2 separate regions of the Homo sapiens genome follow, and region 2 is linked to region 1. Evidence: fine-mapped expression QTL. A gene starts in region 1. The other region holds a variant in brackets. All regions are shown on one strand. Distances are from middle to middle.

Region 1 (5,383 bases):
TAGATATCAGGTAGCTTTCTCATAGTTTGCATAATCACTAAACTCTTGGTGCCTCCCATTTGTTTTATGCTATATTAGTCCTTTTGGACTGTTATAATAAAACATCATAAACTGGTAGTTTATAAACAACAGAATTTATTTTTCACAGTTCTGGAAGCTGCAAGTCTAAGATCCAGGGTCCTGCAGATCTAGTGTCTGGTGAGAGCCAGCTTATTGATTCATAGATTACCTTCTGTCTGTGTCCTCACATGGCAGAAGAGGTCAACAAACTCCTTTGGACCTCTTTGATAAGGGCATTAATCTCATTCATTTAGGCTCCACCCTTTATGACCTAATCATCTCCCAAAGGCCCCAGCCCTAATACTGTCACCTTGGGGGTTAGGATTTCAACATACGAATTTTGGAGGAACACAAACATTTAGTCCATTGCACATCCCTCTGAGATTTTTCACCCGATCTTTCTTCTCAGTCTACTTTCTCTACCTTAATGAATCAACTCAATTTTCACCTCTTCTGTGAAGGAAACTTCCCTGACCTCCTCAGGTAGAGGGGACTACGCTCTCCTTTGTTTTTTACTACTTCTGGTATCCTACCCCTTCCAACACACATTAGACTGTATGTAATACTGGTGTGTGTGTGTGTGTGTGTCTTTATAGAAAGCCTGGGAGGAGTTCATTGCCATGTAGTCAGGGAGACAAATGTGTAACATAATATTCACCTCACATCTGTGTAGATTTACATGAGATATCCAAGGCACAGAGTGCTGCAGCTCATGTGCAACATATTTATTGAGTGCATGATAACATCAATAAATAACTTTTATATTAGGAGAGGGCGTAATTTACTAGAGCATTCCTCGAAAGGTCCCATCAGAAACTCCCCAAGATTTTAATAACTGTTCCTTGAAAAAAAGAATATATCGCTCAAATTGATTTGATAAGTTCAAGGTTGAATAAAGTTAAAATTTTTAATATGCACAAATTTTTAATTTTTCCCTGCAATACTTCTTGGAACTCTTAATGTGCCAATGTGCATTGTGAATTTCCAAAAGTGGATTCAGAATGCAGCATTTCCTAATTGTATTGGGCCATAAAATTCCATGTTCTCCATGTACCCTAGGACACAGTTTGGAGATATTGTTGAGAGTAGAGTATGATATCATTGTCACCATATATTAACTGCTTGATTTTGGGTCACCTCTTTATGCCTTAGTTTCCTCAACTGCAAAATGGGGATAATACCTTCCTGCCTGCTTCAGACAGGTGAAAAGAAATGGGAATAATACCTATATCTAATATTGTTGTTGGCAAAACAAAAAGGTTTATAAAATGTCCAGGAGTTCTTAGTAGATGTTAGCAATTACAATTATTAATAGTATGTCCAGGAGCCAACTCTTCATCTTCAGATCTCTAACACTTTGCAGAATACCAGATTTGAAGCTGAGTTAAATTCAGACTGTTAGTACATGTCTCAGCTTTAGAATGTAGGTGTCCAAAAAGACTTCCCCTCCACCTGTATCATTTGCCTTTTAAACAGAATCTGAGTCAATATATTAAGTTAGTCCTGTTCTGGCCATGGTCCTGTCCTTTAGTATCTTCTTGTAAAAAATAAAAATAAGAAGAAATGAGGTTCAACTAAATAACCTCGAGAGTTCATATTCCCTCTAAAATTTCAAGGTAAAACTAAAGTAATTCTTTCTCAAGTTGCAGCAGAAGGAGTTTTTGTATTTTCTAACTGGTCTGATAAGCACAAAGAAGTCGTTTTTTTTACTTAGAAATGCCATTTTACAGGAGGCTGAGGTGGTGGGATCACTTGGGCCAGAGCTCAAGATCAGCCTGGGAAACAGTTAGATACCTGCCCCCAGCACCCAAATTAAAAGTACAAAAAATCTGGGTGCGGTCGTGAATTCCTGTAATCCCAGCTACTTGGGAGTGGAGGTGGAAGGACTGCTTGAGCTCAGGAGTTGGAGACTGGGCAACAGAGCAAGACTCATCTCAAAAAAAAAAAAAAAAAAGAGAAATGTCACCACTTTAAACTGGTTCCCATCAACCTTTTTGATACAAAGAAATTTTACTTTTGTTAAACTATTTTAGACCACTGTATCAGTTATTATATGTGACTAGGTAGCATGATAACCTATAATTTATGCCTTGAAATAATTTTGACTCATTTTCTTCCCACATCTGTATTTATGAGCCGGGGCAGCTGTGGGGTGGTTCTTTGTGTGGGATTAAGAGACACTGCAGTTCTTGAAATAAACCAGATGTTTGAATTTTCAAAGGAAAAGTTCACACCTAGTGAAGTATTTATTTACAAGCTCCACAACAAAACAAGAGATTATAAGAAAACTTTCAAGGGACATGGGTCACAGAAACCAACAGGAACACCACAGCTTTCCCAACTTCATGGCCCCGGGGGATGTTACAAAAGACACAGAAACGCCGATCTTGTGCTGACTGTAAACATTTGTCAACTAGTGTTACAATGACTAAGAAATTACAAAAGAGTTACAATCTGATGAAGAGCGATTCCTGCTTTGACTTTATTTGGTTTCTATCCACTTTTCCAACATACCTTATAAAATACATGCAAAAAACTGGTTTTAGAAAGCGTTCCCTAAAATTAGTGTGTACGGAAACTTCAGGTATACTTCTGCTTTCCTCCGCAAAACCACCCCTTTTTAAAAATCGAAAGTGAAATTAGTTTTTTTTTCTGTTAGTGACTAATCATTGGAGACAACCATGTTTAGTATTTGAGCATTGGTTAAATGCTAAAGAAAAATCGCCGTTAAAGCAGTTTTCTTTTTCACTGTCTTTTTCTTTTCGCGGGGAACCCAGCTGTTCCTGCGAGGGCCACCTCCTCAGGAAGACCCCGCAGCTCTCCCGCGGCGCTTCTGCAGGAGGCAGCGACAGTTTCGAGAACCCGGGCCTTCCCCTCCCAGTGCCTCCCGGGGTTCCGGCGTTTCAGGCGCTGCTGTTTTCCGGGAAGGGCAGGCGCGCTGGGCCTTGGGGAGCTGCGCTCGGCGGGCGGACGCGGGTGAGTGGGGAGTCCCTTCCCCGGCTGCCACTCCCGCCGCTGGCAGTCCCGGGCTGGAGAGCCGGGGGTGGAAAGGGAGGTGGGAGCCCTCAGCGCCGACGGAAGTGGGACAGCGCCGGAGTTGAGACCCTGCTCCCCGGGAGCTGCCCGCAGCCGAGTCGCGGAGGCCACGCCGCCTTCGAGGGGGCGCACCTGCTCCTGGGCCCGCTGTGCAGTCTCTGGGCCGTCAGGGCTTCGAGCCTTGTCACTTGTTTGCTTTGCTTCATTGAGGAAATTGAAACATAAAGTTATTTGTGTTTCCTCGCTGTTTTCTCTCTTTTTTTTTTTTTTTTTTTTTTTTGAGACGGAGTCTCGCTCTGTCGCTCAGGCTGGAGTGCAGTGGCGCGATCTCGGCTCACTGCAAGCTCCGCCTCCCGGGTTCACGCCATTCTCCAGCCTCAGCCTCCCGAGTAGAGTAGCTGGGACTACAGGCGCCCGCCACCACGCCTGGCTAATTTTTTTTTTTGTATTTTTAGTAGAGACGGGGTTTCACCGTGTTAACCAGGATGGATACGATCTCCTGACCTCGTGATCCGCACGCCTCGGCCTCCCAAAGTGCTGGGATTACAGGCGTGAGCCACCGCGCCCGGCCCTCGCTGTTTTCTCCGAGTGTCTCTGGAGATAGTCCTTAGGAAAACGGATTTCTTAAGAAAACGATTCTTGGTAGGGGCAGTGTTGTGCAGTCATGGCTGGCGTGTCAGAATAGGCAAGGTTTTTCTTGAAGGAGACATCCGAAGGAGAATACTGTGTTTCCAGTCTGTACAACAGGCAGACGTTCTATTGCCTTTCTTTTTGCTGCCACGCATGCATATAGGAAGATTCGATTCTACACGGCCTGGCACCGCAGTTATATGATTGTATTACGGAAATACGGTGATGTTGATTTGTATCAGTTTTTTTAATTCGCTGCCATAACAAATTACATGGCTTTAGTGGCTTAAACACATAGGAACGCGCGCGCGCGCGCACACACACACACACACACACACTCACATACACAATTTACTATCTTAGGATTCTGTAGCAGTCCTACTGAGGTCTCACTGGGTTAAAATCAAAGTGTTGGCAGGGTTGCCTTCCTTTCTGGAAGCTCTTGGGGTGAATCCTCTTTCCATCTTCCGGAGGCCACCTACCTTATTTGGCTCAGCAGCCCTTCCTCCATCTTCAGGGCCAGCAACATTGCGCCTCTGAAAGTTCTTCCGGGGTCACATTTCACTCTTGACTCTTCTTCTGTCTTCCGCTTTCACTTTTAAGTAGCCTCATGATTACACTGGGCTCCCACAGATAATCCAGGATGCTCTCCATATTTAAAAGCAAGCTGATTAGCAACCTTAATTCAATCTGCAGCCTTAATTCTCCTTTGCAATATAAACTAACATAATCACAGATTCTTGGGATTAAGATGTGGACATCTTTGAGGGAGCCATTGTTTTGCCTACTACATGATTGCATAAAAGGAATGACCATACATCCCACTCATGCATAGAGCAAAAGTATCCAGATGCAAAAGATGCCAAAAGGGTTCTGGTGGTGTTAGATAGTAGACCATTTATGCTGAGAGCCTTTATTACAGGCTCTTGGAATATTGGCATTGTCACAATAATAAAAATAAAAAGCAATTAAATAACATTGCAGTTTCTGTCTTCTGAAATGTAATAAGAGGACTTCATATACATGTGATGTCCTGAGTACAACAAATACTTAAGTCAAGATACCACATAATTCTCTAAATGGAGTGTTTTCAGTGTGTAAGCTTATACTGAGAAAGTGCTCTGAATGTCTGCAGGGAGGAGTAGACATGGTCCCAGCCCTCAACATGTTTACTGATGTGTCACGGAAAATGACATAGGTACACACGTAATTAAAGCGCCGCAAAGGAGATAAAGGAGGGGGAGTAACATCCTTTGGGGGAATCAGAAAAGGCTTCGGGAGCTTGGGGAAAATTTGGAATGGACCTTGAAGAACAGTAAGATTTCATTAGATGGAGATTAAGTTTGGGAGAGGAGGAAGGATGTGACAGTTTGAGGGACAGAGGAAAGAAAAGGAACTATCCAAGTGTTCAGTGTGGTTAGGGAACTGGGTTGAGGAATTGACTAAATAGGACGGGAAAGTGAGTTGGAGTTAGAATGTATCAGACCATGGCTGACCATTAAGAAGATTTTGCAGTTGTTGATACAATAGCGATATATATGTATATATGTATGCGTGTGTGTGTGTGTGTGTGTATGTGTGTGAGAGAGAGAGAGAGAGATGTGGTTTAAATATATATATACTTATATATATATATCGTCTCAAGGCATCTCAAACT
Region 2 (5,383 bases), 25 kb before region 1:
TGGGCTCTGAAGTTCTTTCTTCTGCTTGTTCAATTCTATTGCTGAGACTTTCCAGAACATTTTGCATTTCTCTAAGTGCGTCCATTATTTCCTGAAGCTTTTATTATTTTTTATTTATGTTATCTATTTCACTGACGATTTCTCCCCTCATTTCGTGTATGCTTTTTTATATATATTTTTTTTTCGAGACAAAGTTTCACTGTTGTTGCCCAGGCTGGAGTGCAGTGGTGTGATCCTGGCTCACTGCAGTCTCCACCTCCCAGGTTCAAGCAATTCTCCTGCCTCAGCCTCCCAAGTAGCTGGGATAACAGGCACCTGCCCCCCATGGCTGGCTAATTTTTTTGTATTTTTAGTAGAGACAAAGTTTCACCATGTTGGCCAGGCTGGTCCCGAATGTCTGACCTTGGGTGATCCACCCGCCTCGGCCTCCCAAAGTGCTGGCATTACAGGAGTGAGCCACCGTGCCCAGCTTTGTATTGTTTAATTTTTTTATTTTTTTTTGAGACAAAGTCTTGCTCTTGTCCCCCCAGGCTGGAGTGCAATGGGATAATCTTGGCTCACTGCAACCTCTGCCTCCTGGGTTCGAGTGATTCTCCTGCCTCAGCCTCCTGAGTAGCTGGGATTATAGGTGCCTGTCACAGCGCTGGGCTAATTTTTGTATTTTTAGTAGAGACGGGGTTTCACCACCATGTTGGCCAGGCTGGTCTTGAACTCCTGACCTCAGGTGATCCGACCGCCTTGGCTTCCCAAATTGCTGGGATTACAAGTGTGAGCCACCGCACCTGGCCTCATTTTTTAAATTCCCTTAACTTGGACTTCATCTTTCTCTGGTGCCTCCTTGATTAGTTTAATGACTGATTTTCTGAATTCTTTTTTAGGCAAATCATAGATTTCTTCTTGGTTTGGATTCATTGCTGGTGAGCTAGTGTCATTTTTTGGGGCTGTTAAAGAGCCTTGCTTTGTCATATTACCAGAATTGTTTTTCTGGTTCCTTCTCATTTGGATAGTCTATGTCAGAGGAAAGGTCTAGGGCTCAAAGCTGCTGTTCAGATTCTTTTGTCCCATGGGGTGTTCCCTTAATGTAGTACTTGCCCTTTTCCTATGGATATGGCTTCCTGAAAGCTGAGCTGTAATGATTATTATCTCTCTTCTGGATCTAGCTCTTCAGCAGGTCTGCCAGGCTCTGGGCTGGTACTGGGGGTTGTCTGCACAGAGTCCTGTGATGTGAACCGTCTGTGGGTCTCTCAGCCGTGGATACCAGCACCTGTTCTGGTGGAGGTGGCAGGGGAGTGAAATGGACTCTGTGAGGGTCCTTATTTTTGGTTGTTTAATGCTCTATTTTTGTGTTGGTTGGTCTCCTGCCGGGAGGTGGTGCTTTCAAGAGAGCATCAGCTGTGGTATTATAGGGAGGATCAGGTGGTGGGTAGGGGCCTAGAACTCCCAAGAGTATATGCCCTTTGTCTTCAGCTAGCAGGGTACATAGGGAAGGACCATCAGGTCGGGGAAGGGCTAGAAGTGTCTGAGTTCAGACTGTCTTTGGGCAGGTCTTGGCTGCGGCTGCTTTGGGGGATGGGAGTGTGGTTCCCAAGTCAATGGAGTAATGTTCCCAGGAGGATTATGTCTGCCTCTGCTGTGTCATGCCGGTTGTCAGGGAAGTGGGAGAAAGCTGGCAGTCACAGGCCTCACCCAGCTCCCATGCAACCCAAAAGGCTGGTCTCACTCCCACCTTTCCCCCGACTCCCAACAGCACCAAGTCTGTTTCCAGCAGTGGGCGAGCAGGGCTGAGAACTTGCTGCAGGCTACCAGTCTCCCAGCTGCAAAAGCAAGCAGGGCTTTCGTGTCTGCCTGCTTTTGGAGTCTGCACACCAGAATCACTCCCTCCCCGGAGTTCTGGCCAGGAGATTTTGCATTCTGTTGGAATTGTTACACAGTTCAGCTGGAGGTTTCCTTTTCCCTGTGGTCTTTTCCCAGTTCCTCTGGCAGCCCTCCCCAAGGACTCCTGTGAGGCAAGGCAGAAATGGCTTCCCCGGAGACCCAGAGAGCCCACAGGGCTTATCCCGCTGCTTCCTCTACCCCTGTATTTCACTCAGCTCTCTAAATTGACTCAGCTGCAGTTAATGTCAGAATCTCCTCCTGTGATCTAGACCTTC[A/T]GGTTCCCCTGTGAGGGTTGTCTCACGCAAGTCTGTGTGAAGAGACCACCAAACAGGCTTTGTGTGAGCAACAAGGCTGTTTATTTCACCGGGGTGCAGGTGGGCTGAGTCCGAAGGAGAGTCAGCAAGGGTGGTGGGATTATCATTAGTTCTTATAGGTTTTGGGATAGGCGGTGGAGTTAAGAGCAATGTTTTGGGAGCAGGGGGTGGATCTCACAAAGTACATTCTCAAGGGTGGGGAGAATTACAAAGAAATTTCTTAAGAGTGGGGGAGATTATAAAGAACATTGATCAGTTAGGGTGGGGCAGAAACAAATCACAATGGTGGAATGTCATCAGTTAAGCTATTTTCACTTCTGTGGAACTTCAGTTGCTTCAGGACATCTGGATGTATATATGCAGGTTACTGGGGATATGATGGCTTAGCTTGGGCTCAGAGGCCTGACATTCCTGTCTTCTTATATTAATAAGAAAAATAAAACAAAATAGTGGTAAAGTGTTAGGGCGGTGAAAATTTTTGGGGGTGGTATGGAGAGATAATGGGTGATGTTTCTCAGGGCTGCTTCGAGCGGGATTGGGGTGGCGTGGGAACTTACAGGGGGAGATATTCAACTGAAGAAGGATTTTGGGGTAAGGAGTGATATTGTGGGGTTGTTAGAAGGAGCATTGTTATTCTCTTATTTGGAAGACACAAGGTCCGAATAAAAGAAGGAGAAAAACAGGTATGAAAGGACTAAGAATTGGGAGTACCCAGGACAACCAATTACAGAGTGTCAAAGGGGGTTCGGCATAATTATTTGCTTGGTTGGCATGTTTTTGGGCTCTATCCTTGAGTTTTTTTATGTTGTCATAGACCAGGCCAGATTGATTTAGGTAAAAACAACCTTCTTCATTTAAAAATATACAGAGTCCCCCCTACCTTTTTTTTTTTTTTTTTTTTTTTTTAGCAGTGAGTAAGTTAGGGCCTCCTCGAATTTGGAGGAAAGAGAAATGCAAAGCCAGCAATTGTTTGTTAAAGAAGGATTAGAAAGGGCTAGGAGAGAGTGACTGAGATTGATAGTGTGGTGGAGATAGCTGGGGAGAGGTAGAGGGTGGCATAAGAATGGGAACGAGAATAAGAGTAAGTATAAAAGTAAAGAATAGGACTTCATCAGGGTGAAAGTATTGGAGGGTACTTTATCACTGAAGATCTTCTATCCACTTCTAGATAGACTTAAGGGTGGCGATTTGAGGTAAAACCAGGAGCCACTAAATACCAAGAGCCTCAGAAACTGAGGTGGGAAGGCCAAACCGAGGAATTATGTCTGACAGAAGGGAGGAAATGACCATGGTGGCCTTCTCAGACCCTGTGAGAAAGGCCTCTACCCACCCAGTGAAAGTGTCTACCCATACCAAGAGGTATTTTAATTTCCTGACTCGAGGCATGTTGAGTAAAGTCAATTTGCCAGTCCTGGGTGGGGGCAAATCCCCAAGCTTGATGTGTAGGGAAGAGAGGGGGCCTGAACAATCCCTGAGTAGTAGAATAGCAGATGGAACACTGAGAAGTGATTTCCTTGAGGATAGATTTCCACGATGGAAAGGAAATGAGAGGTTCTAAGAGGCGGACCAGCGGCTTGTAACCTACATGGAAGAGGTTATGAAATGACAGAATAGAATGGGCCTGTGAGGCTGGAAGGAGATATTTTCCTTGGTACAAGAACCATTTGCTTTGTGTGGGAAGAGATTGATAGGTGGAAGTTTCAGTTGGGGAGTAGGTGGGAGTGACTAGATGAGGAGAAAAACTGCCGTGAGGGATAGAAGTTGGAACGCTAGCTGCTTTTTTAGCTACCTTATGAGCATAAGCATTGTCCTGAGTGATGGGATCTGATGCCTTTTGATGGCCTTTGCAGTGAATAATTCTAGCTGTCTTTGGAAGTAAAGCAGCCTTGAGAAGAGTTTTTATTAAAGAGGCATTAATGATGGAGGACCCTTGTGTAGTGAGGAAAACTTTCAGCTCATAAAGCAGCATGGTGGTGCAGGATATGGGGTCAGCATAAATATTGATGAGTAGTCCCTTTACAAGAGTGAGGACCCGAATTAAGGCAATGAGTTTGACTTGCTGAGAGGTAGTGGAGGGGGGCAGAGCAGTAGCCTCAATGATAGATGTGGAAGATACTATAGCATAGCCTGCCTTTGCTGGTGAGTGGTGATTAGGCTTGATGGAACTGCCATCAATAAGCCAAGTGTGATCAGGGTAACGAACACGAAAGAAGGAAATAAGGAGAAATGGAGTGAATGTCAGGTGGATCAGAGAGATACAGTCATGGGGGTCAGGTGTGGTATCCAGAATAATGTGGAAGGCCAGATTGAAGTCCAGGCCAGGAACAATGGTAATTGTGGGAGACTCAACAAAGAGTGAGTATAGCTGAAGGAATTGGGGAGCAGAAAGTATATGTGTCAGGTGTGAGGAAGAAAATAGATTTTGAAAGTTATGAGAGCTGTAGAGAGTGAGTTGAGCACGGTTTGTGATTTGGAGGGCCTCCAAAAGTATTAAGGCAGTGGCAGCTGCCACACGCAGACATGAGGGCTAGGCTAAAACAGTAAGGTCAAGTTGTTTGGACAGAAAGCCTACAGGGAGCGGTCCTGGCTCTTGTGTAAGAACTCCGACCGCACAGCCCTGCACTTCAGCTGTGTGTAATGAAAACGGAGTGATGAGTTAGGGAGAGCCAGTGTGGGAGCAACTTTTAGGGCTGTTTTTTAAGGAATGGAAAGGGGAGTGGGGAAAGGATTTAGGATCTGTGTGGTCAACTAGGTTTGCTTTTGTGAGTTTATATAATGGTTCAGTCAGGATGGTAAAACTAGGTATCCAAACGCGGAAGTACCTAACCATGCCCAGGAAGGAGAGGAGTTGTTTTGTAGAAGGGGTTGGGGTTTGGGAGATTAGCCGGACACAATCAGCAGGGAGAGCACGTGTGTTTTCATGCAGAATTATGTTGAGATAGGTAATGGATGAGGAAGAAATTTGGGCTTGACTGAAGTAATGGGGGCTGTCCGTGAAGCCTTGCAGCAGTACAGCCCAGGTAATTTGCTGAGCCTGATGGGTGTCAGGGTCAGTCCAAGTGAAAGCAAAAAGAGGCTGGGATGAAGGGTGCAAAGGAATACTAAAGAAAGCATGTTTGAGATCCAGAACAGAATAATGGGTTATGGAGGGGTTGTGGAGGGAGGTATTGAGGATAGGAGAGTATATGGCTTTG

Direction of the effects. Alleles are on the strand shown, and positions count from the first base shown. SD is a standard deviation of normalised expression in the study named.
For the expression in adrenal gland of the gene that starts at base 2,961 in region 1, allele T in region 2 goes with a higher level than allele A (small effect, 0.25 SD a copy in GTEx).

The links.
Region 2: its variant is fine-mapped to the expression of NMI in adrenal gland (GTEx, PIP 0.96).

What each region holds. Positions count from the first base shown.
Region 1 is chr2:151,287,246-151,292,628 of GRCh38, reverse strand. It overlaps NMI (N-myc and STAT interactor), which reads left to right and starts at 2,961. Exons shown (of 8, transcript NM_004688.3): 1 at 2,961-3,036. RefSeq lists enhancers at 2,373-2,792, 2,853-2,932, 3,323-3,372, 3,393-3,442, 4,243-4,412 and a silencer at 2,993-3,192.
Region 2 is chr2:151,312,013-151,317,395 of GRCh38, reverse strand. No RefSeq gene overlaps it. Among named protein-coding and RNA genes, the nearest start is that of NMI, 25 kb to the right of the region's middle. The variant A/T (reference allele first, on the strand shown) is at 2,151.